Linked DNA regions of Homo sapiens. The protein of the gene in region 1 purifies or fractionates together with the protein of each later gene. This does not show direct contact. Each region holds a gene or a part of one and is shown in the gene's direction. Other genes may lie near its edges.

What was found. Proteins that work in one complex are often made in the same cells at the same time.
Region 2: the proteins of ZNG1A (region 1) and PWWP3A purify together in Homo sapiens (affinity purification with mass spectrometry; 2 studies listed by BioGRID and IntAct, with this or other methods). This does not show direct contact.

What each region holds. Positions count from the first base shown.
Region 1 is NC_000009.12:165,547-169,197, reverse strand, and holds part of ZNG1A (zinc-regulated GTPase metalloprotein activator 1A), read left to right. Parts: intron 1-3,651. UniProt on the Homo sapiens protein: Zinc chaperone that directly transfers zinc cofactor to target metalloproteins, thereby activating them.
Region 2 is NC_000019.10:1,357,824-1,361,474, forward strand, and holds part of PWWP3A (PWWP domain-containing DNA repair factor 3A), read left to right. Parts: exon of another isoform or gene 1-152; intron 153-570; coding exon 571-641; intron 642-764; coding exon of another isoform or gene 765-787; exon of another isoform or gene 788-828; coding exon of another isoform or gene 829-881; exon of another isoform or gene 882-2,104; intron 2,105-2,312; coding exon 2,313-3,209; intron 3,210-3,651. UniProt on the Homo sapiens protein: Involved in the DNA damage response pathway by contributing to the maintenance of chromatin architecture.

The sequences.
Region 1 (3,651 bases):
AAACTCCTATTCATGTTGATACTTTGATCTCCCATGAATCACAAATGTTCTTAATGGCATCTAGAATGATGAATCCTTTCCAGAAGGTTTTCAATTTACTTTGCCCAGATCCATCAGAGGAATCACTGTCTATGGTAGCTATAGCCTTATGAAATATATTTCTTAAATAAGACTTAAAAGTCAAAGTTACTCCTTGATCAGTGGGCTGCAGAATGGATGTTGTGTTAGCAGGCATGAAAACAACATTAATCTTGTACATCTCCATCACAGCTCTTGGGTGATCAGGTGCGTTGTCAATGAGCAATAATATTTTGAAGGAATCTTTTCTTTTCTAAGCAGTAGATCTCAATGGTGGGCTTAAACTAAACCGTGCTGTAAACAGATGTGCTGTCATCTAGGCTTTATTATTTATAGAAAACAGGCAGAGGAGATTTAGCATAATTCTTAATGGCCCTAGAATTTTTAGGATAGTAAATGATTATTGGCTTCAACTTGAAGTCACCAGCTGCTTTAGCCTCTAACAAGAGAGTCAGCCTGTCCTTTGAATCTTTGAAGCCAGGCATTGACTTCTCTATAGCTATGAAAGTCCTAAATGGCATCTTCTTCCAAAAGGAGGCCATTTCATCTCCATTAAAAATCTGTTGCTGGCCGGGCTCGGTGGCTCATGCCTGTAATCTCAGCACTTTGGGAGGCCGAGGTGGGCAGTTCACGAGTTCAGGAGTTCAAGACCAGCCTGGCCAACATAGTGAAACCCCATCTCAGCTAAAAATACCAAAAATTAGCCTGGCTTGGTGGTGGGAGCCTGTAATCCCAGTTACTTGGGAGGCTGAGGTAGGAGAATGGCTTGAACCCGGGAGACGGAGGTGGCAGTGAGCTGAGATTGCACATTGCACTCCAGCCTGGGTGACAGAGCGAGACTCCATCTCAAAATAAATAAATAAATAAATAAAAAATAAGTCTGTTGCTTAGTGTAGCTACTTTCATGAATGATGTTAGCTACATCTTCTAGGTAGTTTACTACAGCTTCTATATCAGCATTTGCTGCTTTCCCTTGCACTTTTATGTTATGGAGATGGCTTCTTTCTTTAAATCTTGTGAACCAACCTCTGCTACCTTCCAACTTTTCTTCTCTAGCTTCCTCACCTCTCTCAGCCTTCATAGAACTGAAGAGAGTTAGGGTTGCTCTGAATTAGGCTTTGGCTTAAGGGAACATTGTGGCTTGTTTGATCATCTATCCAGACCACTTCATATCAGCAATAAGGCTGTTTTATTATCATTTGTGTGTTTACTGGAGTAGCACTTTTAATTTCCTTCAAGAACTTTTCCTTTGCATTCACAACTTAGCTAACTGGCTCAAGAGACCTAGCTTTTGGCGTATCTTGGCTTTCAACATAACTTCCTCACTAAGCATAATCATTTCTAGCTCTTGATTTAAAGTGAGAAACAGGTGACTGTTCCTTTCACTTGAACACTTACAGGCCATTGTAGGATATTAATTGGCCTAGTTTCATGTTGATCATATTCTTTATGTTGTCATGGTTCTGTCATAATTCTTTTAGTTCTATGTTTTAATAGTTTTGGTGCTTATTACCAGTACTGTTGCTTCTCCATTCCCGAGTTAGTCCATCTCCTGATTGAATTTCATTGTCAGGCAGTCTTTTCAAGTTACAGGTACTGCATGCATTCTTTGGGTTCTTATACACTTCATTGATTCAAAATATTTGTCTTTTGTTTTTATATTACTTGAAGGATTACTTGGCTAGGTATAAAATTTATCAGTCACACTTTATTCCCCCTCAACTTTGTAAATGTTGTTCCATAATCTCCTAGTGTTTGATTGGCTGGATTTCTTTGTCCAATGTTTTCTCTTTTTATTAGGAAGAATTTGTGAGTATTATAGTCTCTGAGTTTCAATGCTTGCTGTTTTCTTTAATGCTTGAGAATGTCTGTCTATTGCTTTCGTTCCTGAAAAATAACTTGTTTGGGAACACTTTCATTAGAACTTTGTGGTCCCTGTTTTATTATTTTGGGACATCTAGTGTTACTGTAGAAAAGTCTGATTTTTCTCCCTACCTCCTTGAAGGCAATTTTTTTTTTTAATCTAAAATGCCTGAGAGTTTTCTTCTTTATTTTTGAAATTCAGTAATATAAACAAGGTATATCTAAGTGTCACTTATAATCATTTTTCCCTAAATTATAGTATGCCCTTAGTTCTTCTAAGAACATTTTCCTTGTTTATTACCATGAATACTTTTTTTTGGTCAAATTATTAGATCCTCTACTTCATGACACCAGTTTTTTTAATACTGAATTTTCTTTTGTTGTTCGTATGTATTCTAATTGCTTTGATTTGTCTTTTACCTTTGCATTTACTGTGATCATCTGAAGCCTTTCTTTTTGTCAATAATTCTGTTTTCTCCAGTGTCTGTCCTGTTTTTGATATTTTAAATGAATTAATTGGTTAAGTCATTGTGTTATATAGGCTCTAAGTTTCTTTAGCGCTACAAACGCATTTTCATCTTATTCTGCTTCTTCTTGCTTTTGAGCTTGTTTATTATAAGGTTGTATTGTTTTCAAGTTCTTCATTATGATGAAGTTGTTGAGAATTTTCTTTAGTTTTTATTGGGTTATGTATCCTTCCAGAATGGGTTCTTTGCCACTTGTGTGCCCTATTCATTTCTTCATTTTGTGTTCTTTCTTGCTTTTTATTCCCTGTATGTGCGTGTTTCTTTTTGTCAGGCTGTAATACATATGCATACATGTTTCTTCTTGATGTGGGAGAACTTCTATGTGGTGCTGATGGGAAATATTTTTAATACTCCACTCTCCTTACCCAAGTTTGTTTTTCTCCTGAGCCCTAGTTTGAAAGCTGTATATTGTTGGAGTGGAGGGAAAGAGAAGGGAAAAGTGGTGATTCAGAGAGCCAAATGGGGCAATGTGGCTTTTAGGCTCTGCTCTCTTGAAGTACCAAGTATTTCACTCTTGGGTCTGCCCAACTGCTTATGAATAAAATTCCTTTGCCTTGTATGGGGACATCATTCGACCTCAGAGCTCTCATTTCTCTTTGTTCTGAGCCCTAGAATGTGACCTGACCTTCTCCTTCCCAAAGCAAAGAGATGGTTAAAACTCACTCTTGAAATTTTTTTGTTGACTTTTCCTTGTGTTGCTTATTCATTCCTCGGCTCTACTTTTTGTCATTTTGGAGTGTATTTCTGGTAAGTGTTTAGGATTTTGTAAACTATTTCCCTACAACCTCTTATTGGAGGTAGGGGTAGAGTTGGGAATGACCATCAATCACATATAACTTTGTTTCTTATTTTGACTATCAGTCTTCAAAATTTATGGCAGGCCCTTTTATATTTGGTTGCTGCTAATAAAATGTTGGCCTTTTTGTTTTATTTTTTGTTTTTATTTTTTGTTTTATTAGATTTTGAAGAAGGGAGATTCTAAAATGTAGTTCAGGTTTTCTCAGTGTCAGCACAAATAACATTTTGGGTTGGATAATTATTTGTTGTGAGGGGGTTGCCCTGTGCAGAGTAGGATATTTAACAACATCCCTGGCTTCTACCCACTAGATGCCAGTAGCATTCCCCTAGTTAAGACAACCAAAAACATCTTCAGACATTGCCAAATATTCCCTGGGGAGAAAAG
Region 2 (3,651 bases), on another chromosome or scaffold:
AGGAGACTGATCCCGCGTAGTCCAAGGCATTGGCTCCCCTGTTGCTCTTCCTTGTGGAGCTCCCCCTGCCCCACTCCCTCCTGCCTGCATCTTCAGAGCTGCCTCTGAAGCTCGCTTGGTCCCTAGCTCACACTTTCCCTGCGGCTGGGAAGGTAATTGAATACTCGAGTTTAAAAGGAAAGCACATCCTTTTAAACCAAAACACACCTGCTGGGCTGTAAACAGCTTTTAGTGACATTACCATCTACTCTGAAAATCTAACAAAGGAGTGATTTGTGCAGTTGAAAGTAGGATTTGCTTCATAAAAGTCACAATTTGAATTCATTTTTGCTTTTAAATCCAGCCAACCTTTTCTGTCTTAAAAGGAAAAAAAAAAAAAAACCATTCACCAGGGTTCTTGCTGCCTGTAACCTCAGGCAGATGAATTCCTAGTTGGCTGTGACTTTTGGTTTAAGTGGAAGGTTGAGGAGGAAAATGAAAATAATTCTTTTGTTATCTAAAGGAAAACATGTTTGAAAATGTCTTGGCGGCGTTGGCTGGTGGTGTGTAACGTCGATTTTGTCTCTGCAGAATTAAGGTGAAAAGCACTGAAGTTGAGATCCTAGAGAAGTCTCAAATTGAAGCCATTGCTTCCTCGTTAGGTAAGAGCGTATTTTTAAGTGGCCACTAGGTTTTCATAAAATAAGAGGTCATTTGGGAGAATGTGAAGGCTCAGCTTTCTGGGTAAAAATTCACCCTGTTCACCATGTTTTTCTTCATACAAGGGAACGCGAATCCCCTGAGCTGAAGGAGAAGGAAAAATGGATCCGCTTTCTTAAACCTTTCCAGAATTTGCCCCTAGAACCACTCCTATTCTTGACGCCCAGAATGGTCAGTGGTGAGCATCAAGGTCATCTCGTACCCCCGTGGCCTCCAGTACACAAGACGAGGAAGGACTTTGCTGCCATAAGGGGGGAGGTCCTCCTTTTTCCTTTCCTCTTCCTATAGTAAGATTTGCTGTGGTACTGTCGCTGCCTGGCCAGTCTGGTCTCAGCCCAAGGTTTGAGAAGCAGTTGGTTGTGTGTTTAAAATTCCAGAGCAGAGCCCAAGGGAGAGAACGGGTGGCCTGGCACTGGGGTTGGTGGCACCCATTGTTTGAGGCACTGTCATGGGGGGCACGAGGCAGGTCGGAAGTGGAGCTCTCGGCTTCCCATCCATCCGGGTGCGCTTTCTCCCAGGCCTTCAGTTTAGCACCCACCTCCTTTGCACACTGTGGGTGAGAAAAGCTTTGCCTGAGTCCAGCCGGGGACTGGTCATGCACATACATGACAAGTGAGGAGCACTGGTGACTGCCTGCCCCCTAGCCACAGTTGTGCAAACCCAAACCTGCCAGCCTTCCTTCTCAAAGTGGAACTGTTTATCCCATTTGCAAATAATTGTTTCTCTTGTGAAAAGATGGACCGGAATTCCTTCCAATGATGTTTATAAAATCAGGTCTATTTTCCTGTGTCTTCCGAAAAACAGCTCTTGTTTAAAGCAGGATCCATCTCTGCATAACTTAGGCCGGGCTGACCATCATCTTGGATGGCGTCGTCCTTGTTGGCGCAGATTGTGTTGGGGGGCTGGTTGTTTGTGGGCGCCTTTAATATTCAAAGGGGAGAATACTGTTCTGATTGAGGCATTATGCCCGCTGAGTTGTGATATTACATCCATCATCTTGTTCAAATAAATAGCGCCGTATCTATATGTCGGAATGAATAAATAAAAGTGCTGCAGCAGGGAGGTTGGGCTGGAAACCAGAGGCCCACGATGCTCTTTGCTGGCTTTGAAATGCCCTTGCAAAGAAGTATTGAAAATTTACCAGCCCACAATGAGTCTTTTAAATCTCCTTTTCCTTGCTACCACCAACCCCTGCACCAACCAAGAATACGTTGCCAGCAGAGTTCTTTATTTAGTTGGCATTGGTTTTTATTGACCCTGATTGAATTTGAAATTGTAAGGCTGAGAGAGGATTTGCAAAACATTTGAATACATTTTGCTCACGGTATTGTTTTGTAACTTGGAGGAATTTATCTTTTTAGCCAATCAGGTTAAGGTCAATAAATTTGGTTTTTAAAAAAATGAAGCCTCGAATCCCGGAATGAATAGCTGTCGTTCTGTAGCCTCGTCTCCTTTTTGGGAAAATGTAGGTGAGAAATGTTAGTCCTCCCCTTCAGTGATTTAGGTATGAAACTAGCCGTCAGAATGAGACAAGCGAGCTTCTAAAGCGATGCCGTGACCGCAGTGCCTGTGCAGTGAACGTAACCGGCATTGTGTATGTTCGGTCCTTGCAGCCTCACAGAATGAGGTTCCTGCGGCACCCCTGGAAGAACTGGCCTACAGACGGTCGCTTCGCGTGGCTCTGGACGTTCTGAGCGAGGGCTCGATTTGGAGTCAAGAAAGCTCTGCAGGGACAGGTAGAGCTGACCGGTCTCTGCGAGGGAAGCCCATGGAGCATGTCTCCTCGCCCTGTGATTCGAACTCCTCATCTCTTCCCCGCGGAGACGTGTTGGGCAGTTCCAGACCTCACAGGAGGAGGCCATGTGTGCAACAAAGCCTGTCAAGTTCGTTCACTTGTGAAAAGGACCCCGAGTGCAAAGTGGACCACAAGAAGGGGCTCAGGAAAAGTGAAAACCCAAGAGGCCCGTTGGTCCTCCCAGCTGGAGGTGGTGCCCAAGATGAGAGTGGGTCCAGAATCCACCACAAAAATTGGACTCTTGCAAGTAAGAGGGGAGGAAACTCAGCGCAGAAGGCTAGCTTGTGCCTGAATGGATCTTCCCTTTCAGAGGACGACACGGAGAGAGACATGGGGAGCAAAGGAGGCAGCTGGGCAGCCCCGTCCTTGCCCTCCGGGGTCAGGGAGGACGATCCCTGTGCCAACGCTGAGGGACACGACCCCGGTCTGCCGTTGGGCAGCCTCACTGCGCCCCCAGCCCCTGAGCCCTCGGCCTGCTCAGAGCCTGGAGAATGCCCTGCGAAAAAGAGGCCGCGCCTGGATGGCAGCCAAAGGCCGCCTGCCGTGCAGCTGGAGCCCATGGCAGCAGGGGCCGCACCATCCCCCGGGCCGGGGCCAGGGCCCAGAGAGTCTGTGACCCCGCGCAGCACCGCCAGGCTGGGCCCGCCTCCCTCCCACGCCTCTGCGGATGCAACCAGATGTCTTCCTTGCCCGGATTCCCAGAAGCTGGAGAAAGGTAAAAGTTTCTCGTGGAGGAGGAGAGCGCAGAGGGTGGAGTCCTGCTCCTCCGCAGCCAGACTGGGAGCCAGGCACGTGGGTGTTTTTGACCAGATTTTAATGAGATCGTTGCCAAAATAGACTTAGAGCAGAGACTTCCTCATTCCTTTTTGTCTGTCTCCCCACTGGGCTATAATTGCTTCAACTTCTAAATATTTGTCTTCTTATTTTTGTTTAGAAGGGAAGGGAGTTGAGTGAGTGGGGAGCCCGTAGAGGGGCGGCGGGCCACGATTGTCTGCGGCGCGGCTGGGAGCATTGTGGCTGTGCTGAGGCCGCAGCTGCGGCTGCACCCCGAGGATTAACTCTTTTAACGGAAGCAGTAACGCATTCCTATTAAATTGGGCAGCAATCTCAAAAGTGATTCACTCACTCAAAAGACTGACTTTTTAAAGAATTCCTGT